Regions from separate parts of the Homo sapiens genome. Here regions 1 and 3 are each linked to region 2. The links come from fine-mapping of genetic effects on gene expression. A gene starts in region 2. Each other region holds a variant in brackets. All regions are shown on one strand. Distances are from middle to middle. Region 1 holds the start of LOC101928009 (a long non-coding RNA gene). Region 2 holds the start of NUP210L (nucleoporin 210 like). Region 3 overlaps CHTOP (chromatin target of PRMT1).

Region 1 (8,185 bases), 980 kb after region 2:
GGTGGTGGCTCCCTTTTGCGGCTGGCTGAGGAGGCAAAGATGTGTTCCTGGCATGATGTAGCAATGGTGGAGCAGTCGCTGTGGCAGTAGAACTTCCTCACCAGGCTAGTTTTGTGGTGTGGTTTTTGGACATTTCCCCTATATGCTTAGCCTCAAGCCTGGTTCTGCGGCTTTTCCAAGAGTTCTATAATCTACCCAATAATATTTTAATAAACCCTTTTTCTGTTTAATCAGTCAGAGTGAGCTTTTGTTGTTTGTAATTAATATCCTGAGATGGTACAAAACTAAATGCTATTAATTACACAGTATTAGCCTGCTCTTTAAATTCTACTAAAGCAACATCATGAAATTGGAGTTCTTGGAAGAGTGACCAAAGAGGAAGAAATAGGTCTGATCAAAGCTTTTGTTCATAGTTGGCTTACATATGGGTTATGCCAAACATTTGTCAACATATAAGAGAAATGTATGTCCCTATAACATTTCAAATAGACTCTTTCATAGGGCCTTCTCATAGATGAATTTCTGAGCCCATCTGCTAAAAATTAAACTATAACAAAGTAAAAAATGTGAATGCCTCTGAATTACTGAGTGAATCTTTCCTGCCCCATCCTTTATGGTGTGAAAGAATCTGTAAAATTTCCCGAGGAGTCCATGAGCAGGTGGAAGAGTGGCCTAGGTGGGGAAGAACCAAGGCATAAATGATTCTTGAAGCCAGTGAGAGACTTGAGTCTTGCCACCTCCAACCCCATGGAAGGAACTCCCTGGAGCATCACTGACTCAGGACTTCTAGCCTCTGCTCTGACACCTCCAGTGACAAGGAGGGAACCGCTCTGTAGTTCAGAGCAAAATTCTCCTAAAGTAACAGAAGTCACTGGGAAGCACATTTCAGTCCAACCAAGGAAATAGTTTCTAAGTAAGTTCATTAATAATAAATCTGGTTGCCTCCCTTGTACAGAGCACTCTATTGTGGACAGACTTCAAGCAGAGGCTGAAAGACCATCAGGAGGTATTTTAGAGCAGATTTCCATTCAATATGTGCTTCTGATCCCATGATTCCTTTTCTTATCTGAGATTTTTTTTTCTGTTTGACTTCCCTTTAGAGCCTCCATCATTTCCCTCTATTTATTTCCCTCTCTCTGTAGGACAACCTCCATATTTATTTCCCTCTGTCTGTAGGACAACTTCACTCTTTCTTATTGTCCAAACCACAGGCTCTGAAAGAGCAGCCAGGGAGTAATCGAATATCACAAGCCTGGGGGTTCTGGAAGTGTTAGCCATGTTCTGTCCCAAGGCCTTCACTCAAATTCTCAGGTCTGTGTCCTCATTTGAAGACTGTTCTTTGTGGTTTCTGAATAGCTGGGATTTGACTTCAATTTAAGTGAAGTAAGCCCTCTTGGGGTTGTAGAAAGAACGTGAGATAGGATGTGAACATGTGGATGCTAGCTTTACTGACATTAACCAGCTGTGCTGTCTGAGTGAAGTTCCTCAGTATCTCCATGACTTTATTTCTTCATCTCTAATATTGAAGACTTGTAAGAGTTCCAAAGTTAATTCTAGAATTATATTATGTTTGTCCGCCTGTCTATTTATGCACTTAACTATCCTAATTCTTTAAAACCCCACCTTGAAAAAAGTGGTCACTGTCAGTCCAACCATACAATCTTCTTCCGGCCCAGATGAAGGCTAGCCCAAGCCCTAATGGAACTCTTCTCTCCTTTTAGGGATAATCCCAGTAGCTGTCTCTTCTTCAACTTCCTGCTTCAGAGGATTAAGGTGGCATAAAAAGTAATCTTGTACCTTTGATCCCAAGCACAGTCAAACTTTTGGAAAACAAAAGGGTTTGCCCCAGTTTTCCGTTTTTTGGGTGCCTCATTCCAGTTACTAATGTGATGTGTCTAACTCTTTTTTTGTACCGGAAACTCCAGTTTTGCAGGTATTGAGTGACTAGCAAGGTTTCCATCTCCTGAGGAAGGGTAGCCTGGGAGAAAGAGGACACAGAAGCCCTTTCCCACAGTATCTCTGGGGTCTCTGTGGGGGCAGCCAAAGGAAAGGTGCAATGAGGTGCATTGGGGGCAGGACTCTTGAGTGGGGGAAGGATGTGTGCAAGGACTGGTAGGTGGTAGGTTAGTGATAGAAGACTTGAACTTATGTTGTAATGCTACAGCAAAAGTCAACCGCATGAGACCAGACCACGTATTGTGATAGGTGCCACCAGGAAAGAACTCTGTGGAATTGATAGATAAAAAGGTTCATTAGAAAAAACTAAATGGGACAGTCTGGAGAAGTAGACCTGGTCTTCTGAGCATGAGAGTTATAATTTAAGGATAGTTTTTTCAGTCAGGGAGTGTTGATAGACCCTGGAAGGTGAGAGGTGAAGTAGAGTGGAAGCCAATTCCTGGTCCTCTCATGGGACATGGCTTGACTGTCACTTGTCTCATGTATTCAGGAGGATGCTGGATACCTGAAGCTGTAGGTCGCTCCAATTTCAATGGAGGATTAAAGTTGAGTGTAAAAGGAAATTGGTAAACCAAAGAAGAAGGTCTGAACAAGTCCTTAGTACATGGCCAAAGGACAGACGTAGATACTGATAGCTGGAGTACAGGGCTGGGGATTCGGGGGGCATGGGAGGGGAGGGCAGAAGCATTGGGCAGAGCTCAAGAGGGGAATTGTGGTCTTTGGGTAATGTTAGACATCCACTAATTTCACTGGTTGATGTGTTTGCTTTGTTGTATTATTTGGTAGGGAAAACTGTGCTTATGGAACCATACCTGGGCAAAAAAAGAGACTTCACTATCTGTGCCAGGGAGATGGGACCACCATCTGTTGGCAGCTGTGAAGTTGAGAGGTGGCTGTTCACCAGAGATGAATACACAGGGTTTCCAGTCAACTTTCAGCATTTTGGTGCATGATACCCAAGCCCTAGCCAGTGGAAAAAGTGAGCAATTATCTGCTGAAGAAATGTCCGTAGTGGTGAGTGGTGGTAGGCTGGGTGGAGGAAAAGCGGTGGCATGTGCAGTGGAGATTCAGGTACTGAAAGGGTATATGGTGTGATCACACAAGTCCGTATAACCCAAATTCTCAAATGTCAGTCTGATGAATGAATACAGGGAAGCATTCCTGGGGAGGCGAGTGGGTGTAAAGGCTCCTGTAGTCCAAGAATCTTGAATGTTTATATGCAATCCATTAGCTCAATAGTAGCTGTAATTGTTATTTACTCTCTTTTTGAGTTTTAGTGTTTGTGTGTGGTAAGACACACCTGTGTTTCAAGTAGTCCCAGGACGGCCGGGAAAAGGGTGGAGGAAGGAAGGGTGTTTACCTGCTCATATTCAGAGAAACTAATTGCCTGGGAAAATTTAGGCTAAACCAATGAAGATGAGAGAGTTTCAACATTTCAGTCATACTGGCATTTAAGGCAGGTGTGAACAAATAAACACTAGTGACAAGAACAGCCTTGCCAAGCAAAGTACTCTTCCGTGAAAAGAGGGAGGATTGACCCTCCCATGTGATGTCACTGCCAAGGCCAAAGAGGGTGGAATGAGCTGATCGTGGATCCTGGATCTTCTAGGTCTTTGAGAATTTCTGTGTCAGTTGCCCATGATACCCTGTTCTTCCTCACTTGTTGGCCACCTCTCTGAGTCACTGACCAGCCAGTGCTGATTTACTTAGGTGGATTTGTGGGGTCCTGGCCTGAATCACCATATGCAGAGGTGGCTCTCAGAGGGTGGTGGGCAGCCGTGGGGAGGTGCAGGGAGGTAGGACCTTTGAGTGGGAGAAAAGCAAGTGAGGGGCCTGGTATGTGGGTCTGTGGGATCCTGAGCTGATTTACCATATGCTGGTTAATTTTTAAAATCAAAAGTATTTTCTTTTGAAGCCATGGAATACCTCTCTTATCTCTCTATCAAGCCCTTCTTCCACCTTTTCTTCTTCCCTCCTTTCCTCTCTCTTGTCCTCTTGCCCAGTAGTCTTCTGGAGTTGATTCCTAAACCCAGGTCTACCTTTTCTGCCTGCTCTTTGCAACTCATAAAGCTTTTGTTTTCTGTTCATTTTTCATTGCCATACGCTGTTTTTGTGTCCTTGAAGTTGGCTTTTGTGTATCACAAAGATGATTTAAGGCACACTTTGGTTTACAAAATTTATATTTACTTTATTAAAGTTACCAATTATACAGCTTTTTGTGAGCCATAAGTTAGATAACTAATGTTATTAATTTAATTAAAATTCTAGAAATTTGTGTAATTTTTTCAAGGAGCTTTGGAGTAATAATTGATCCAGTTAACAACTTCGGTTAAACTCTCTTAACAACTTAAACTGAGGTTACCAAGTTGATATCCTCAATTTTAGAGTACTTTAAGTCTCCCACTGACTAATACAATTCCAAATACATACTCGAAGAAAATTTATACATCTTTTGATTCTTATGTTTTCTTAAGCATTTCAATGCTGTTTAGAAACCTAACCAAATTCCATTACACTTTGTAACTTAAAATCATGTCTAAATAAATTAATTAGTTATATTAGTTAATATAAACTGTAAGACTGTGAACTGAAGAATGATGAAATTCATATATTTGGAAAGGAGAGCTTTCTTTCCATAAAGCGGTTCAGTCTGCAAGGCAGCCATTCTGACATACTTGGAAACACAGTCTCCAGCCAGAAGCCAGAAATACAGATATTTGGAGGG[T/C]GAGAAGAATAAGGCAGGAATTTATGCTGAATGGCGTGGCTGAATATACATGTTGAATAAGCTATAGGAGGAGTCATGAATATTTGTGAAAGGAGAAATGTGCACATACACAATTGAGCTTCATGCCCTGGGTTGTTCAAAAAATGGCAGTGTTAACATGATGGAAGGCTGAAGTTTTCAGCCTTCTGACATTAAAAGGTGAAGTGGAGGACATGAAAGTCATCACTGTGCATCCTCTGTTGACTGGCCAGAACCACTTTGTGGTTGGTGGCTTTTTTTTTTTTTGAGATGGAGTCTGGGTCTGTTGCCAGACTGGAGTGCAGTGGCATGATCTCAGCACACTGCAACCTCTGCCTCCCGGGTTCAAGCAATTCTCTTGCCTCAGTCTCCCGAGTGGCTGGGACTACAGGTGTGCACCACCATGCCCAACTAATTTTTTTGTATTTTTAGTAGAGATGGGATTTCACCATGTTGGCCAAGATGATCTTGATCTCCTGACCTCGTGATCCACCCACCTCAGCCTCTCAAAATGCTGGGATTACTGGCATGAGCCACCGCGACCCCGGCTGGTAGGTGGCCTTTTATCAGGAAGGAACGTCGGTCTACTGTTGTGTTCAAAGGCAAAAGGGAGGAGTAGTCACAAGGTTGGTTGAAATCATTGGAGAGCAAGTCTTTCAAAAGGGCTGGTTTCTGTTTAACCCTGAGGGAAGAAAGCCTAAAGGTGGTTAGTGAGGGAGGGAGTATAACAAGGCACTTCCAACCTCTCATTCTGTAATGCTAGGAACTCAGTTTTGAGGTTTCTCTGGGGCCCCCTTGGCCAAGAGCGGGTCCACTTAGTCAGTTGGGAGGCTTAGGATTTTATTTTTGTTTCTCAAGGCTGATTTATTTGATGATCTAACATGCCAAATTTTACATCTTACACACACACACACACACACACACACATACACTCATGAGTACACAGTCAAGATGACAGTTGGGATTGGCATCCAGATAGGGTGCTCTCATAGCCTATGCTCTTCTGATTCAAATTGCACATTGACCAAGAATTCCCTGTTGTCCAAATCTGCATCTTCCTTCTCAGGTTTTATCTGATTTCGTTTGGTACTTATTTGGATTTTTCATTGCTGGGGGTATTTTAGCATACTTTTATGTTCTCTTCAATAGTTCTAAGAATGTATCAATGCCTTTCCATAGGATCATTCATATGCTTATGTAATTCCTTCAAAACTTCTTTGAAATTTAAGAATTTCGGATAATATAAAATAGCATCTAGTAATGTCCCAAGCAGATAATAAGCACTTAATAATTGGCAACTATTATGATTCTGCTATTATGATAAAAATAATAACAGTCAAAACCAGATTGTTATAAATGCCAAAATATAGGTACAGAATTAATGAGACTGTGAGGGAAATCAATTTCTGTGGCATTCACATGCATGTCTTTCTTGCTGTAAAACTGAAGCTCTGTGCTGAGTTGAGCTCCTGATATACTTCTATGTGATGTAAGATTCAGTGAAAGTTCTATCAAGACACAACTGAAGTGGAACTTTGAGAGACCAATTCCCAGACTGCTTGTTGAAAATAGATAAAGCTATGGGCATTGCATTGAGCCTTTGGTCTAGGAGGTTCTTCTATGGAACTGAGTGTTTCCAGAACTGATGGTGCTTCAACAGTTGGTGGAAGAGTCTATTCTTTTTGGTTGGTGTTGATAACTATGTTATATAAAGCATTCTTCTCTCCTAGTGATATTATTTTTGAGATGTTAAAGTAAAACAGATTCTTCTTTGATGGAGACACTACTCAGAGCACCAAGAAGGTGATTTAGAATATGGCATTTCTCCTGCTCATGGGATCATGGAACCATTTATACTCAGGTTCTAATATTTTATAAGACATGGGGTAGCAAATATTAGGCTAATGTATTAAGATAATTGCCATATTATTAGCAAGTATTACATGATTAAATAAAATGTATTTTTTGTTGAATCTTCTTAAAAACATTACTATATTATTGTGGTGGAGGGCAAACATGACTTTTGGTCCAAATGACAATGAAGCAGGTAAGATCCAAAAACCTTTATTATCATTTAAAATTATTTACTTGTAAGTTTACATATTTTGGCTTATATCTTCTATAAGAAGATAAGGTCAGAGAACTTAAATGTTTTCTGAGTTATCCTCCATTGTACATTCAGCATCTAGCAGAGTAATAGTTAAGTTCCACCTTCCTAATCTCTAATCATTAAACAGATGTAAAACAAATTTATATGGTACCAATACAGTAAACATATCAAAATAACTTACTGTAATTGCCAAATTTACCCTACCTAGTTTAGAGATTTCTTTTTCTTTTTCTTTTTTGTTTTTTTTTGAGACAGAGTTTCAATCTTGTTGCCCAGACTGGGTGCAATGGAGTGATCTTGGCTCACCACAGCCTCTGCCTCCCAGGTTCAAGCGATTCTCCTGCTTCAGCCTCCCGAGTAGCTGGGATTACAGGCATGAGCCACCACGCCTGGCTAATTTTGTATTTTTAGTAGAGATGGGATTTCTCCATGTTGGTCAGGCTGGTTGAGAACTCCTGACCTCAGGTGATCCGCCTGCCTTGGCCTCCCAAAATGCTGGGATTACAGGCATGAGCCACCACGCCTGGCCAGAGATTTTATTTTTTTTCCAAAACAAAGGGTCTCTTATTTATTTCTTCAGATCATTAACTGCAGTATGGCATGCCAAGGTTATTAGGATCCAAATATCTCATATATATTTTGAGCCTTCTGTGATGGTGGTGGTGGAATCAAAGTAGATTGCATCAGGGTCCATTCTGATTATGCCATGGTTCTGGATCTCGGCCCCTCTTCTCCATTCCAACTTATGTTCCCTTTATAGACCTTTGTCAATTTTCAAGTGGATTTTTTTTTCCTAAACACTTTTATGAAGAGATCAAGTGGATTTTTACAGTTCTTTTAACTGCCCTCAAATTCTGTGATACTCAACTTCCTAAAGTGCCAAGCACATCAAGATATTTTCTGTCTCTGTGTGGATGGTATCAGTTGTCCCAAGAGAGTTTTGAGTAGGACTGTTCTTTTCTTAGATTCAAAATCCATCTTTGGTCTTCCAGATCTTGATAATGTGGGCTAATATGGGAGTGAGTGATGAATGAAATGACATATCTATTCTTGGAGATCTTCATCCCCATGATCTGGAGACTGTGAAATGTGTTGCTTCTACCTGGTTGGGTGGTCCTCTGCTGTCCAGAGGCCCAATTCTGCTTATTTGAGGGTGCAGCATCAGAGCTTAGGTATCAAGGAAGAGAGAAGAAGGGGTAGTAATTTTTTTGTTGCTGCTGATATTAGGAACACTTCCTTGGGACCAAGAGAACAACAACAACAACAACAAAAAGGCTTGTAGAAACCAGATTTTCACATGGGGTTCTTTCTCAAACAACAAAACCTAAGTAACTAAGTTAAATGCCCATGTAGGAGAGGCTCATAAACACTCAAAT
Region 2 (8,185 bases):
AACACATTTCTTCGAAGCCAACTGTATTCCTTCCTTTGCCATTTCCCTTGTTTCAGTTTCTCAACCCAGGGAATAAATATTGTGAAGGAAGCATTTTTTCTCCCTCAAAATGTTGTCCTACCAACTTGTCAGTCTGAATTTCCTCTGTTGGTCTTTCCACCAACTGACTGACTCTTATTGCCCTCTATCTGAATCCTCCTTGCATCCACCCTGCCTTACAGATGCATGTTATATATACCAGCTAGTTGAAAGACTCATAATTTACTTCTGGTACTCTACTAACTTTCCCTTTTTCTCTTTCTCCTCCTCTTTTTCCTCTCCTTCTCTTGTGTTCCCCTCCTCTCCGTTGCTGCTGCAGAGCGTCTCTACAGCCAACTTGAGCGAAACCGCCTGCTTTCTAATGAGCTGAAGCTAACGCTGCATGATCTGTGTGACTGATGGGCAGGGCTCAATGATGCCCATTAAACTGAGCTTACTGCTCACACCACTGACCTGGACCCCAACAAAAAGCTGATTGTCTTTTTAAAAGTTATTATTTTGCCCTGAGCAAATTGCATTTTAATTGGGGCAGTTAGAATGTTGATTTCCTAACAGCATTGTGAAGTTGACCATTGTGAAGTTTCTGTCCCTTTAGAAGAGATTATGGGTGAAGAAGGGAGGGGCCTGAGAGATTATAGTGAGAAAACTTGCGAGAATTTTGTTTTCCACCCTTATTTGCTGCTCTTTCACTTGGGCACTGACTGTAGGATATGTTCCCTTGCATGGATGTTTTTAACAATAAAAGGACTGACTTGACAAGTTGTTGTAACTGCTTCATCGGCAGGCCCAGGAATGGGTCCTTCTGACTGGGTGGAAAAAAGGGAAGTGAAAGAAAAGTTGTGGGATATGAATATGGGTCTGTGTTGCCATCACCTTCTCTGAGTTGAAGATTTGAGTATTTTCCTCACCTCTTTAGAGCAGTCAGAGTGGTTTGCTTGCTAGACAGATTAGATTCTCCTTAATGTTCAGCTGCTGATTTTCTTTCTGACTTTTGCGTCCTTTTTCTGGTTTTATGTTAATTTCAAGTAACTGTCACAAGCTAGTTCTGTTCAATAGCTCTGCAGCAATCTCAAGGTTTGCTTACAACTACTTGTTTCAGTAGTATTCTTGGCTTTGTTTTCTTTAGAGATTATTTGACTTAACTGTGAGCGCCCTTTTATTTATCCCATCAGTTATTACTTTGGCCTCTACTTTTTCGAAAAAACATGTAGTGCATGAGGATCTTCCTGTGCTCTTTATAATCTGAGATTCTGATGTTTCTATTGTTTGCAATGTTCAAACTCCGGTGAGCCATTTCAAGAGGGTATTGTTATGTGGGCAAAACCTAGAAAAGTGGATGGCTGATGGTTAAGGCTTGCTCTTTCATTGACTGAAAGCTGAAAGTGTTGGTTGGGTGTGGGAGGGAGAGGAAATGGCTGATAAGGGCCCTAACTCCCTCACCCAGGAAGTGCAGCAACACCTACAACTTCAGTAGGCAAGCCAAAGGCCCTACAAAACTGGGTGATGTAATAGCTCACTTCTGTGGCTGAGAAGGCAGCTGCTTTATCAGTCTGCAGCTTCTCTGCAACAGGAGCAAGTCTCAAAGAGCGGGTAGACCTTGAAATTTACTTCTAGTTCTTGTAACTTCTCTCCTTTACCCCCATTAGATAAACTGAAATGCACCAAAGAGGAGCACCTCTGTACACAAAGGATGCTGGACCAGACCCTGCTTGACCTGAATGAGATGTAGAACGCCCCAGTCCCACCCTGCTGCTGCTCCTCCCTCTGACCCAGACTCCGCCTGAGGCCAGCCTGCGGGAAGCTGACCTTTAACTGAGGGCTGATCTTTAACTGGAAGGCTGCTTTCTCCTTTCACCACCCCCTCCTTCCCTGTGTCTTTTTCGCCAAACTGTCTCTGCCTCTTCCCGGAGAATCCAGCTGGGCTAGAGGCTGAGCACCTTTGGAAACAACATTTAAGGGAATGTGAGCACAATGCATAATGTCTTTAAAAAGCATGTTGTGATGTACACATTTTGTAATTACCTTTTTTGTTGTTTTGTAGCAACCATTTGTAAAACATTCCAAATAATTCCACAGTCCTGAAGCAGCAATCGAATCCCTTTCTCACTTTTGGAAGGTGACTTTTCACCTTAATGCATATTCCCCTCTCCATAGAGGAGAGGAAAAGGTGTAGGCCTGCCTTACCGAGAGCCAAACAGAGCCCAGGGAGACTCCGCTGTGGGAAACCTCATTGTTCTGTACAAAGTACTAGCTAAACCAGAAAGGTGATTCCAGGAGGAGTTAGCCAAACAACAACAAAAACAAAAAATGTGCTGTTCAAGTTTTCAGCTTTAAGATATCTTTGGATAATGTTATTTCTATTTTTTATTTTTTTCATTAGAAGTTACCAAATTAAGATGGTAAGACCTCTGAGACCAAAATTTTGTCCCATCTCTACCCCCTCACAACTGCTTACAGAATGGATCATGTCCCCCTTATGTTGAGGTGACCACTTAATTGCTTTCCTGCCTCCTTGAAAGAAAGAAAGAAAGAAGACTGTGTTTTTGCCACTGATTTAGCCATGTGAAACTCATCTCATTACCCTTTTCTGGGTTTGAAGCTGCTGTCTCTAGAAGTGCCATCTCAATTGTGCTTTGTATCAGTCAGTGCTGGAGAAATCTTGAATAGCTTATGTACAAAACTTTTTAAATTTTATATTATTTTGAAACTTTGCTTTGGGTTTGTGGCACCCTGGCCACCCCATCTGGCTGTGACAGCCTCTGCAGTCCGTGGGCTGGCAGTTTGTTGATCTTTTAAGTTTCCTTCCCTACCCAGTCCCCATTTTCTGGTAAGGTTTCTAGGAGGTCTGTTAGGTGTACATCCTGCAGCTTATTGGCTTAAAATGTACTCTCCTTTTATGTGGTCTCTTTGGGGCCGATTGGGAGAAAGAGAAATCAATAGTGCAACTGTTTTGATACTGAATATTGACAAGTGTCTTTTTGAAATAAAGAACCAGTCCCTCCAACCCTCAGACCTATTTGACTTTTATTTATTAAAACTAAATGTGCTTTCTCCACAGAAGCTATGAGGTTTGGGTTAAAAATAGCATCTTTGTGGGTGGTAGCAACAGGATTTATTCTTTATTATTATTATTTTTGAGATGAAGTTTCATTCTTGTTGCCTGGGCTGGAGCGTAATGGCTCGATCTCGGCTCACTGCAACCTCCGCCTCCTGGTTCAAGAGATTCTCCTGCCTCAGCCTCCCGAGTAGCTGGGATTACAGGCACCTGCCACCATGCCCGGGTAATTTTTTATATTTTAAGTAGAGACAGGGCTTCACCATGTTGGCCAGGCTGGTCTCGAACTCCTGACCTTCAGGTGATCCACCTGCCTCAGCTTCCCAAAATGCTGGGATTACGGGCGTGAGCCACCGCACCCAGCTGGAGCAACAGGATTTAATATAGAGCAAATGTTTAGTTTTATCATCTGTAAAATGGAGATAAGTATTGTCAGAGTAAACATGAAGATTAGAAAGAACACTTAATGTGCTGGGCCTTTTATAGGTTAACACTGACATCTCAGGCTGAACTATATACATTTTCCTTCACAACCATATCAATCCTTATAAACTATGGATTTATGCTCCTTAAAACAATATATAATGCTGATCACTACTATAAATGCGTGGTTTTAACCAACTGTACTGAAACAGCTTTGAGTTTATATTCTGTTTGGATATTTGGAGAAAACAACAAGTGCTCTCAAGAGTATTTGCTTAGAGGCCGGCTGTGTGAGTGGATAACTTTGAAAGCTGCTTTTGAGACGCCAGTGTCTGGCATTTCCTGCATTCTGGCCTGGAGGCCGGACGTGAATCTGACTTCTAGTAAAAATACACGGTTCCCTTGACAAAGTCGAGCTGTTTATCCCAGAGACTGCACAATTTTCCGTTGATAGGCATGGACCAATGCTAACTGGAAATCATTGCAAAAAGTTTTTTTGTCGGGCGGAGGGTGTGGTGTTAAGATAAACAGTGTGCAACAGAAGAAATTAAAACTGGAAGAAATTAAAGGGTTTTTTTTAGACTTTTCTGCTTGTTCCTTACTGTTAAAAAGGTCTGCCATCCAGTATTTAGGAAAGCCCTTTAAGAGAGTTTGAGGTGTTTTAGCTGGGTTTGTGCCAAAAGTTTCCATTATATTGGCTTGCTGAAGGACTGCATTTAAAAATGCCCACACATCCGAGCAAGAAGCAGGTCCCATCCCCCTCTGCTGACGTCACGCCTGTGGATTGGCTGATGGAGCTGTGAGCCGGCTGTAGTTGAGCGGGAACCCGAGACCTGGCAGTCGCCATGACTGGCTGTCCGGCGTCATCAAGACGCCGAGGCTTCGGGCTCTTTTTCTTCTTGCGTCTACACCGCCTCCTGTTGTTGTTTCTGGTTTTGCGTGGGACCCTGGCCAACAAACTTAACGTGCCACAGGTGTTGCTACCCTTCGGCCGAGAGCCAGGCCGGGTGCCTTTCCTGCTGGAGGCCCAGCGGGGCTGCTACACTTGGTGAGGGGTGGTGGGTGACAAGGATATGCACCCTCACTACCATCCAGTAAGGGTGAGGGGGGTTCCCTCTGTAAGATCCCACAGGAATACCGTGTGGGGCCGCGTGAAGGGGCCTAGCCGGTAGGGGAGGAGAGTGTGGTGTCAGTGAAGGTGGCGAGGAGCAGACCCTTGGGTGTGGCGTGTCCTACTCATGTGGTATATCCTCCAGCTGTGTGACAATCTTCCAGACGTGTGAGGAATTCTCGGGATGTGGGACTGGCCTCTTCTCTGTGTGTGTTGGGAAGGGGTGGTCACTATGAGCAGCCGTCAGGGTAAAGGGAAGCCCTGTGTTGGAGGCCACAGGTACTGATGACTTCCAATGTAAACAACTAGAGTAAGAGGAAGTTCCCCATATCTGAGGAAATTTCTGTAGGAACAGGAAAACTTGGGGTGCGAGGGTCCCCACTAACTATAGATGAGCTATTCAATGTGAGAAGGACTTAAAACACAACAGCCAAGTATTGGGGGTTAACTAAGCACTTTACATGTGTTAACTCATTCGCTTTTTGCAGTCTTATGAAGTAAGTACTATTACTCCCATTTCACAGACGAGGAAAGTGAGGCCCAGAGACTATGAAGTGTAAACTTCTGGGAATATGAGAAGATTTATCGTGGGTGGAGATGAGATCTGTCTGTATTATCAAAATTGCCCCATTTATAAAAGGGTACCCGCTTGAAGTGTGAGGACAGGGGGTACACACAACTCCGGGATAATGACTTCCTGACTGAAGATGAAGAGACATGATTTTCTGGTGTGAGAGGACCCAATGATGGGTTATGTGGTTGCCTAAGGTATGAGAGAACCTAACCGAAGTGAGCTTCAGGATGCCAGTGCATTCATCCTAGATGGAGTAGATACCCCTTTGCCATCTCCTAGGAGAAGCAATGAGGTTTGTTCCGAGTATAAATTCACCTCTCATTTTATGAGGAAGTATAAGGAAAGTGAGCTTGTAAGATGATCCAGTGTGACGTGTGTGTTTCCTGACCGTGAGGGTGATGCAAGGCATCTTTCCAGCATTGAAAGCCATTTCTTCTATCACTCCAAAAATATTAATGAGGCCAGGCATGGTGGCTCACGCCTGTAATCCCAGCACTTTGGGAGGCCAAGGCAGGAGGATTACTTGAGGCCAGGAGTTTGAGACCAGCCGGATCAACATAGTGAGACCCCGTCTCTATTTAAAATAAAAACATTCGGCCGGGCGCAGTGGCTCACGCCTGTAATCCCAGCACTTTGGGAGGCCGGGGCAGGCAGATCACTTGAAGTCAGGAGTTCAAGACCAGCCTGGCCAACATGATGAAAGCCCATCCCTACTAAAAATACAAAAATTAGTCGGGCATAGTGGCAGACACCTGTAATCTCAGCTACTCGAGAGGCTGAGGCAGGAGAATCGCTTGAACCCTGGAGGCGAATGTTGCAGTGAGCTGAGATCGCCCTGCTGCACTTCAGCTTGGGCAACAAAGTGACTCGGTCTCAAAAACATAATAATAAATAAGAATAAAAATATTTATGAATGTTTTTGGTATTTTGAGTTGGACTCACACCTCATAATTTAGGCACCTTTTCCATCCTAGATATCAGAAGCCTGGTTTCTAGGATTGAAGGAAACTTTCCTCAGAGTATGAGAAAGTCCCCTCTCATTACTAGAAACACATCAGTCGTATTTCTGCATACTGAGGGAAGAATATAAAAATCTTTTAAAAAAAATTGAGGGAGGGATATTTCTGGGACTTTGTTCAAGGGATCATTGGGAAAGTTCTCATCAATCTCTCAGTTTAATTATCGCATCCCTAAGCAATGTTCCTTCTTTAAAAAGTGTCATTTACATATACCTGGTAGTATGTAACATGGAAGAAGTGTGAGAATCTATGTTCCACTAAAAGTTAATTTTAACCCACCTATTTCACACTCTTAAGAATTTTGTTCTGGCAGGCATTCCACCCATCATGATGCAGTTACTGTTGAGCCTTTATATGAAAATGGCACCTTGTGTTCCCAAAAAGCTGTACTCATTGCTGAATCTACGCAACCGATACGCCTCAGCAGTATTATTCTTGCTCGAGAAATAGGTATGTTGAGAGCAAAAACACTATGTATCACTTCTTCTGGGGTAGAATAATCTGGTATTTTGTATAGATAGTTAACACAAATGGTGTTGGCTTCAAATGATCAAAGGGAGAATAAATGATTCCTAGCTGGCTGCAGTGGCTCACGCCTTTAATCCCAGCACTTTGGGAGGCTGAGGCAGAAAGATTGCTTGAGCTCAGGAGTTTAAGAACAGTCTGGGTAACAGAGTGAGACCTATCTCTACAAAAAAAAAAAAAAAATTATGGCTGGGGGCGGTGGCTCGCGCCTGTAATCCCCCCACTTTGGGAGGCCGAGGTGGGTGGATCACCTGAGGTGGGGAATTTGAGACCAGCCTGGCCAACATGGTAAAACCTCGTCTCTACTAAAAATACAAAAAAATTAGCCGGGCGTGGTGGCGCACACCTGTAGTCCCAGCTACTCAGGGAGGCTGAGGCAGGAGAATCGCTTGAACCCGGGAGACACAGGTTGCAGTGAGCCAAGATTGTGCCACTGCACTCCAGCGGGGCGACAGAGGGAGTCTCCATCTCAATAAAACAAAATAAAATAAAATAAAATAAAATAAAAATGAAGAGTATTAGGCAGGATTTTCATTTTTTCTTTCTTTCTTTCTTTTTTTTTTTTTTTTTGAGACGGAGTTTCGCTTTTGTTGCCCAGGCTGGAGTGCAGTGGCGTGATCTTGGCTCACTGTAACCTCTGTCTCCCAGGTTCAAGCGATTCTCCTGGCTCAGCCTCTTGAGTAGCTGGGATTACAGGCGCACTGCCACCACACCTGGCTAATTTTTGTATTTTTAGTAGAAAGGGGGTTTCTCCATGTTGGTCAGGCTGGTCTCAAACTCCCGACCTCAGGTGATCTACCTGCCTCAGCCTCCCAAAGTGCTGGGATTATAGGTGTGAGCCACCGTGCCCGGACAGCATTTTCTCTTTTTTTAGAGACAGGGTCTTGCTTTGTTGCACAGGTTGTAGTGCAATGGCACGACAGTAGCTCACTGCATCCTGCCTGGCCTGCGCAACACAGTGAGACTCCATCTCTACAAAACAATAATAATAAATAAATTAAAAGAATTTTTAAAAACCACCTAAAACCTATTCTTAAGTGGACTTTGCAATTAGATAGAACTAATCTATTTTTGTTTCCAGCTTTGGAAAATTTCCTAGTACATCTGAGTCATCACTTTTCCCCCACTCCCTTTAACCTTTTGGTTCCTAGGGAATAAGAGTCCTCTGCTATTTTTCACCAGATTTTTTTCCAACTACTAACACCTATTCTACAAATTTTGTTACTGGCCCTCTTAATGTTCTCACATGTGCAGTCAGTGACAACTATATCTTGACTGCTGCCTGGCTGAGAGGACTTGTAAGATGTCATCAATTATAAGATAAATCCCAATTGCAGAGATGTTAAAAGATAAAAAACGAGTGTCTAAGAATCAATGAAATATGGTATGATAGTCTCAAACATAAGAATCTTTGAAGACCATGTCATGCAGGGTAGCTA
Region 3 (8,185 bases), 510 kb after region 2:
CCACCTCCTTTCTCTTCTCTGTTGTCTGAACTGGCTTTCCTCTTGAAATTAAACTCCTGAGAGTATGTGCTTTGAATTAAAATCCAAAGGGGATGCTGGGTGCGGTGGCTCATGCCTGTAATCCCAGCACTTTGGGAGGCCGAGGCGAGCAGATCACCTGAGGTCAGGAGTTCGAGACGAGCCTGACCAACATGGAGAAACCCTATCACTACTAAAAATACAAAATTAGCCGGGCGTGGTGGTGCATGCCTGTAATCCCAGCTACTCGGGAGGCTGAGGCAGAAGAATCCCTTGAACCTGGGAGGTGGAGGTTGTGGTGAGCCCAGATCGTGCCATTGCACTCCAGCCTGGGGAATAAGAGTGAAACTCTGTTCCAAAAAAAAAAAAAAAATTCCAGAGGAAAGCTTTAGGACTTTCTGAAGGAACCCCTTCCCCCATCTCCTCATGGATGTGTTTAAATCTTCAGCTGATAATCACCTTACACTAAAGGGTAAGAAACAAAATCGCCAGGCGTGGTGGCTCACGCCTGTAATCCCGGCACTTTGGGAGGCCGAAGCAGATGGATCACGAGGTCAGGAGATCGATACCATCCTAGCCAACATGGTGAAACCTCGTCTCTACTAAAAATACAAAAATTAGCTGGGTGTGGTGGCGCATGCCTGTAATCCCAGCTACTCAGGAGGCTGAGGCAGAATTGCTTGAACCAGGGAGTTGGAGTTTTCAGTGAGCCAAGATTGCACCACTGCATTCCAGCCAGGCAACAGAGCGAGACTCCATCTCAAAAAACAAAACAAAACAAAAAAACAAACCAAGACTAAATGGAGCATTTAGTGAATCCTTTAAAGAGACCTCATGGGGATCTTAGCTGTCCCAGGCTGCCCACACAATGAGGCCTATGACTGGGGGCTGCTGCCACCATTAAGGGTCCCAGAGCTGTCCAGGGCCTGTCTCCACCTTCAAGAGTCATCCTGCCCTGCTTCACAATGCTCCCCTCTCCTTCCTTCCTTGCCCCTGGTACAGGTGGTCAGCCAGGGTCCCCAGCACGTCTGACTGGGTCACTAGCCAGGGTGTGACGCAGGTGGGAGAGCCCACCGAGGCATAAGTGGGAGCCTCTACCCTAACCCCTGCTGGGTCCATGGAGCTATCTATTCATAGCAGCAGGACCACCTTTTTTTTTTCGAGATGGAGTTTCACTCTTGTTGCCCAGGCTGGAGTGCAATGGCGCCATCTCGGCTCACTGCAACCTCCGCCTCCCGGGTTCAAGTGATTCTTCTGTCTCAGCCTCCCGAGTAGCTGGGATTACAGGCATGTGCCACCACGCCCAGCTTATTTCATATTTTTAGTAGATACGGGGTTTCTCCATGTTGGTCAGGCTGGTCTCAAACTCCCGACCTCAGGTGATCTACCCGCCTCGGCCTCCCAAAGTGCTGGGATTACAGGCGTAAGCCACTGTGCCCAGCCTCAGGTGTTCTTTTAGCACTGTACCTTTACACTTGGTTCCCTCTGCTTGGTGTATTTTCTCTACTTTCCCTTGTCTTAAAAGATCCAGCTCATCAACCTCTTCCCTATGCTCCTAATGTTACCCTTACAAAGGATGCCTTGTGTTGGTATGGCAAGCCCTCAGCACATGGCAGCTGAATGAAAGGCTGACCCAGAGGAGGTCAGGTTTACTCACCTTGTCCCACACGACCAGTGACTGAGGATGACAGGGACACAGGCCTCAGGAGACCCTGGGAACTGTAGTGAGCAGTAGGTGGGGCTGGAGGACCCTTGGCTGATAGGAGAGTTCCCTGTGCCCCACATAAGCGATTTGGGGATAAATTCTTTCAATGAAGTAGGAAGGACATGGAGGTAGAAGGAAGGAAGCCTAGGCTACGGCAGTCACCTCCTTTATAGAGAACTCTTAAGCATCAGTCTCCTCTGGGGTAGGAGGGAGCCTGGCATTTTGCACTTGTTTGGGTTGTTGGGGAGGTTGGCTGGGAGGGGAAGTCCTCATGCTTTAGCACTGGAAAAGGCAGAAGGAGCTGAACTGGGGATTCAGTTCTGCAGTCACCGTCCAACCTGTAGCCTTCTGCTAGACCCCCACTGCCCATCTCCCTTGGGACCTACAGACACCCCACATCACAGGATTCAAGTTTGGGTTGTCCTGACCAAAATTTCCTTCCCAGCCCCCAGTAAGTACAACCTCCTGGCAGTTTAGGGTGAAAGGCAGCCCAATGACAACTGGCTTGGCTGGGCGCTACTAGGTTCTTTTCTCTTCAGCTCTCAACATAGGGAAAAAGGGAAATATGTGCCAGGGCCCAAGGGCCCAGAATGTTGCCCAAGACAATCTTCCTTGAGTTTTTGTGGGCGTGGTGTTATTTCTGCAGAGCTCAGAGGAAGTCAAATTCTTCACTTTCTGCTCAAAGCCACAGGCTCTCCAGAATTTTAACACAAGTAAGAAGAAAGAAACTCTCAACCATACAAGGGGTATATCAAGACATCATTAAAGTGGCTGGGTGCAGTGGGTCACGCCTGTAATCCCTGCACTTTGGGAGGCTGAAAGTGGGTCACGCCTGTAATCCCTGCATTTTGGGAGGCTGAAGCGGGTGGATCACCAAGTCAAGAGATCAAGACCATCCTGGCCAACATGGTGAAACCCCATCTCTACTAAAAATACAAAAATTAGCTGGGTGTGGTGGCACATGTCTGTAGTCACAGCCACCCGGGAGGCTGAGGCAGGAGAATCGCTTGAACCAGAGAGTTGGAGGTTGCAGAGCCAAGATCGCGCCACTGCACTCCAGCCTGGTGACAGGAGCGAGACTCGGTCACAAGAAAAAAAAAAAAAAACATCATTAAAGTAGCCATGGCATTTTGAGGCACCTCAAATAAAGAGAGTCCTGGGTGGATTTAAGCGAACAGTTTGTTATAATGAACCAGAAATACAAGATTCCACTGAAACTGAACAGTTGACAGAATATGGTTGAACTTAAACCTTCAAGGGAAACAAGGGCAAAACAAAGCTAATGAGTGGAAAAGTCCAAGATTAGTTTGGGATAAACATGAGGATATAATTGCATTTTAGCATGGCTATCTTCTGACCTCTTCCAGCAGTTCGTCTGCCATCATTCTCCCTTCTGACACACCTACCAAATCAAATGGCTTCTGATCCTCTATATTGCAGTATAAACCAACCCTATAGTACCCCTCTGGTCATGATACAAACCCAGAAGGAAAGTCTGTAAATCTCATACAAAGGTAGAAAGTGCAATTCAACCCAACACGCTGGTTATGGTATATGTGCTGTCAATGTACATGGTAGCAACTTGAATCAAACCAGAGCTGCTACCACATGTAAGCAACCTCTTATGCTGCCCTGTAGTGATGTCAATGTTCTCAGTTTACTAAATTATCAATGTGGAAGAACGCATTTTTGAGCTCCAGACCTTCTAAACATTTTAAACAGGCTATCGAAGAGGATGTAACAGAACCCTATTTCAGAAACCTAAGGATCAGGGAGGAAGGAACACTGACCGGTTTTTCTGGGATGTTTCTGTGGGGGCAACAGGGATGAACAAAAGAAATGTTAGCATGTCAGAGCATATGACAAGTGAGGGGAGACAGAGGTAGGAAGAGGGTGTTCTAGCCACAAGGCTAATGCATTTGTGTTCAAAGAGAAGTCTGGGCAAAGGAGGGGAAACCCCCCCTCCCCCCTAAAAAAACAAAAACAAAAAACCAAATCAAAGGACAAAAGGGTTTCATACAACACAGTATCAAAAAGTAAAAGGAACACACTAAATGCACAAGCTGGTGGCAAGTAAGTCCACAGCCTATTGTGATAGGTCCATCCAGCATCAATCAGATTTCTTCTCATCTGTTATCTCAAGGTTATTTACAGATGTGTTGACTAACAAGAGTCTCTCATGGGAGGATGGGCAGGCTTCAATCATTGGTTTCGGGATCTGTCTGCGCCATGTAGGCATCCAACTCAGCATCCAGGTGTCCTTTTGTTTTCGACATATATGCATCCAATTGGTTGTCCAGCTGCTCCTTGGTCAATACAGGGCGAGCAAGGGCACCTCTCCCTCGTCCACGGCCTCGGCCTCGGCCTCCAAAGCCCCCTCTTCCCCGACCTATCATACCCCGACCTGGCCCAAAGGGG[A/G]AAAAAAAAAAAAAAGAGACAGTTACAAGTAAGTTTAATAGGTGCTGTAGTAAATGCCCCTTAGAGCAGTGGGGCCTAGCTGAGAAAAGCTGAAGGGCAGGGCAAAGAGGAGAAATCTGGAAAAAAAGGAAACACAATGGGTAGAAAGCAACACATGGAAAGCACACATAATGAATCCTCTATCACATGATCATCTCTAAATGCTATTTTAACAAATTTTATTCTATCAATAAAGGAAAATAATTAACTGGCAACTATAATTTTAAAAAACCTTAATCAATCCTAAGATAAAATTACCTAACATTTGAGATTCACTAAGTTCATAATTAAAATACATGACAGATAACCCCATTTGGTAAGATAGGGAGGTGGTAACAAGAGCACAGAGCATCAGGGGTGTGAAGACAAGACAGTTTTCAAATTAAGTTTATTGGAGACCCTTCTGGAAAGTCATCTCACCTGTCCTTAAACTTATCAAGTCTAATGAGCTAGCTGACCTCATGTGTCAGGAGACTGAGTTTTTCTGACACAGGAACAATGTAGGGGAGATTTGAAAAAATATTTTGAGTTGTCCTAGCTATTTCTACCTTTAATTCTAGTTACCTTATGACAACTGACAATTGTGGTTATCTGAGAAGCAGTGTGAATTCAGTTAACAAAACAAACTCAGCTTTTTGAAAAGCTATTTTAGTCTCTCCCACCCTCGTGATGTCTCTCAGGATCCAAGTCAAGATAATTTGGAAACATGTTATTTCATCCTGAAACCCAAACTAGCTTGCACTTCACTCAGTAAGTATCATATAATGGGAGAGAAGAAAACAAGCCCTTGGTTATCAACTTTTCTTTCCTAACAGTTATTATTCCTTGGCAACTTCAAGGTCATAAGTTATGGAAGACCCAAGACACCTTTTAAGAGAACCAAAGCAAATATACACAGGGGCTTCAATAGTGTTTTTTTTCTGGACAGGTGTTGGGAGTTTTCCACTAAGCTCTAAACCAGAAGGCTCCCATGAGATTTAGTATTAACAGCAGCAACATCATTAAACTCTTTCCCAATCTGGGTCATGAGGTCACAAGACAAACATCAATAAATTTCAAAGGCAAGATTATCAATAAGAGCCAGTTAGTTAACTGATAATAATTCCATCTTGCTCTCTACCTTAAGCAAAAAAAGTCATCTCTGGTTCTCCACAGGCACCAAATGTGACATTGAATTTATTTGGTTTCAGAGCCAATGCCCAGCTCCAAGTCTCACCACCCTCTTAACTCTACTTCATCTTTGTATCTCTCTCTCTCTTCTATATTCTCATGTGACTCAAACCAGGATTTGGAGCTACAGGGTGGTATGTGGTGGTGATGGTGGTGGGACAGGGGCAGAGAAAGGCAAAACCCTAAACTGACCATTTTGGGGGGTATTTTCAACTATACAATTTAAATTTGCAAGAGCTTGGAGGAAGATGGCATATAATCTGGCTCTATAATATGCACTTGATTGATTCTTGGAAAAATCATGAGACTTTTGCACTACCAGCATGGTAATTTGAAAAATAAGCCAGTTTCAAATAACAAAACAAGACAAACAAAGAAGCCTGCCTATGACTTGAAGCTGTGCAGAAAGGTGGCTCTGAGTTTTTAAGGGAGGAAAGTAAGGGGGAGCTACTCTCTGAAGTTGGTAGCTGACTAACCTCTACCACCGATTCCGCCACGACCCATAGCTCCACGCCCTAGGCCCCCTCTCCCAGGACCTCCACGACCTCGAACACCACCTCTTCTTAAGCCCATTCGGGGAGCTACGGCTCGTCCACCTCGGAGCAGGTTTTGACCTTAGAGAGGAGGCATACAATGTATATGCAGGTAAATCCAAGAGACACAAAGTAGATTCTAACCAAAGGAAGGCGGTGAGGGTTAAATGAAGGTAATTCAGTTAGTTTTTAGGTTGGCTGGGGCAAGCTGCATACTGTGAACAGATTAAGCTACTCTTTATTCAATCAATTCAACAAGTCTGACCACAAATCCATTTTTGGAAGTTGGGAGTTAATTCAATTAGTAAGTACATACATTTAATAAATATCTACTGAATAATCAGATAGATGCCTAGCATTATGGTAAATTTAAAAATAAATGCTATGGTTCCTGATCTCAACAGATTCTTCTAGGGAACAAGAACTATACAGGGAACAGAGTAATAGTGCCCCAAATGAACATATATAGGTAAGTGCTGTGGGTCAACTTGTCCTCTTTTTCCAGCTGTATCAGTGTTTTACTAGCACCAGGAACAAAGAGATATAGGCCAAAAGACCTATAAATTTCTTATGTTTGACTTGTTTCTAGAACTTGAATGTGCTTTGATTCAAGCAACAGCAGGGTGTTTTAAAATGGAATGGAGATGACATGAATTACCTGTTGTTACGCAGGTCATAGCCTCTCACCATTGCACATTATCAGAAAAGGAATGGTATTGATAAAAGACATGCAGCACTATTAAAAATATGTGATTTCAGAAGTTATTATATTAATACAAATTCAGGCTTAAAGATGTTAAACAAACGTGTCCATAAGCAGCCCAAGAGAAAAGGGAAGGGAGTAGGGCCCGACAATTATCAGGGTACACAGCACTGACCTCGGAGTGACATCCCGCCCCTAAGTAGGGTTCTGGTGGCACGTCCCCCACGTAGTCCTCCTCTGGGCAAGCCTCTCTGGATTATGGGTAGGCCTCGTCCTCCGATTGCTCCCCTGGCCAGGGCCCCTATGGGTCGGCCTAACCGTGCCTGGATGTTACTCTTACCCAGGCGCTGCTTTAAGCTCTTCTGGAAGAAAAGGTGTTAGGGGATTGAGATCAAAAAAGCAATCCAACAGGATTTGGCAACTCAAAGTGCAGAGAAAAAGAAGCAAGTGAGATGCTGGTGTGAAGGGAGATAAACCTGTTGTGGGTGTCAAAAGGATCCCAAACCAGAAGCAAGCCTTTGCCTCAGAACATGTTATACAAGCAGCAGAATTTTGATCCAGAGCAGAAACTCCAAGAAGCTCAAGTGTGGTCCCATGAAATGGGCATCTCCACAAATTACCTCACTAGTTTGGCTACAGAAGTCATACACTGCCAGTTGAAACTTAAGTTTTCGTAAGAACATTCTATAGTTCAATCCTGGATTGTACTGCTTTTGAACTACAGGTTGACAATTATATGACTTGATTCATACCTGCCCATGGACTACCACTGTCTTCAAAGGCTTACTCAAACACCATAGGAAGTTCATCACACTCTGGGCAAAACTTAAATTACAAGTTCACTTGAGTTCTTGTGACTTAAGAACAAGATTGATTTCTCAAAAAGGCCCGTGTGCTCCATTTTTCCTCTGAGAATCTATTTCCAGACGGTCCACTTTTTACCTTAAGATGTAAATAAACACAAGAAAGTCAAATCTCCTTTCCTTACATTTCTTAAAAATCCCTAATTCCATGCCTGCACTTGCAAACAGCTCCTTTAAAACAATGATGACCTTAAATTAAAAATAAACATGTAACTCAAATGTATCTCCACAGTCAGCCAGCCAAACGTATGTTAGAATTATTCAGGTGATCACAAAACTCAGGGCCATATATAAGAACAAGGACACACTACAGAGATAGGGTATTTTTAAGAATCTGTTCTCAAAAGAAAACCATTAAGACTACATCTCAGAGAATTAAATTCCTTCAAAGGAAAAAGGGACAGCAATAGCCCTGAACACAACCAAGCTCCTAGTAAGCCTGGCTGTCCATAAAGCCATCAGTCAATCTGAAAGAAAATAAATTGTATAGCCCCTTCAGGCTTCACCCACAAGTGACTACCAACGTGTATGTGTGTGTTTTCTAATCAACCTCTCAAAAAGATGCTGTGAAGCATTATTAACTTTCTAGCACAAGATCATAAATTGCTTCTCATCAGTGGGGAAGGCTCCAAACATTATGCATCTAGCATAAGTAGGTGTAACCAACCGTAACGGCCTGTCCTGTTACTCCCGATTAACACACAATTATCAGGTTAGAACTGCATTCCACAAGTCT

Evidence for each region.
Region 1: its variant is fine-mapped to the expression of NUP210L in minor salivary gland (GTEx, PIP 0.95).
Region 3: its variant is fine-mapped to the expression of NUP210L in whole blood (INTERVAL, PIP above 0.99).

What each region holds. Positions count from the first base shown.
Region 1 is chr1:153,166,346-153,174,530 of GRCh38, reverse strand. It overlaps LOC101928009 (a long non-coding RNA gene), which reads right to left and starts at 13. Exons shown (of 3, transcript NR_110685.1): 1 at 1-13. It also overlaps a transcript of SPRR2G not described here. The variant T/C (reference allele first, on the strand shown) is at 4,682.
Region 2 is chr1:154,151,222-154,159,406 of GRCh38, reverse strand. It overlaps NUP210L (nucleoporin 210 like), which reads left to right and starts at 4,334. Exons shown (of 40, transcript NM_207308.3): 1 at 4,334-4,565; 2 at 6,535-6,671. The coding sequence starts at 4,363. It also overlaps a transcript of TPM3 not described here. RefSeq lists a silencer at 3,216-3,393 and enhancers at 4,000-4,500, 4,501-5,001.
Region 3 is chr1:153,641,006-153,649,190 of GRCh38, reverse strand. CHTOP (chromatin target of PRMT1) reads right to left here. Exons shown (of 6, transcript NM_015607.4): 4 at 6,762-6,945; 5 at 5,827-5,964; 6 at 2,885-4,127. The coding sequence ends at 3,922. Among named protein-coding and RNA genes, the nearest start is that of CHTOP, 11 kb to the right of the region's middle. The variant A/G (reference allele first, on the strand shown) is at 4,142.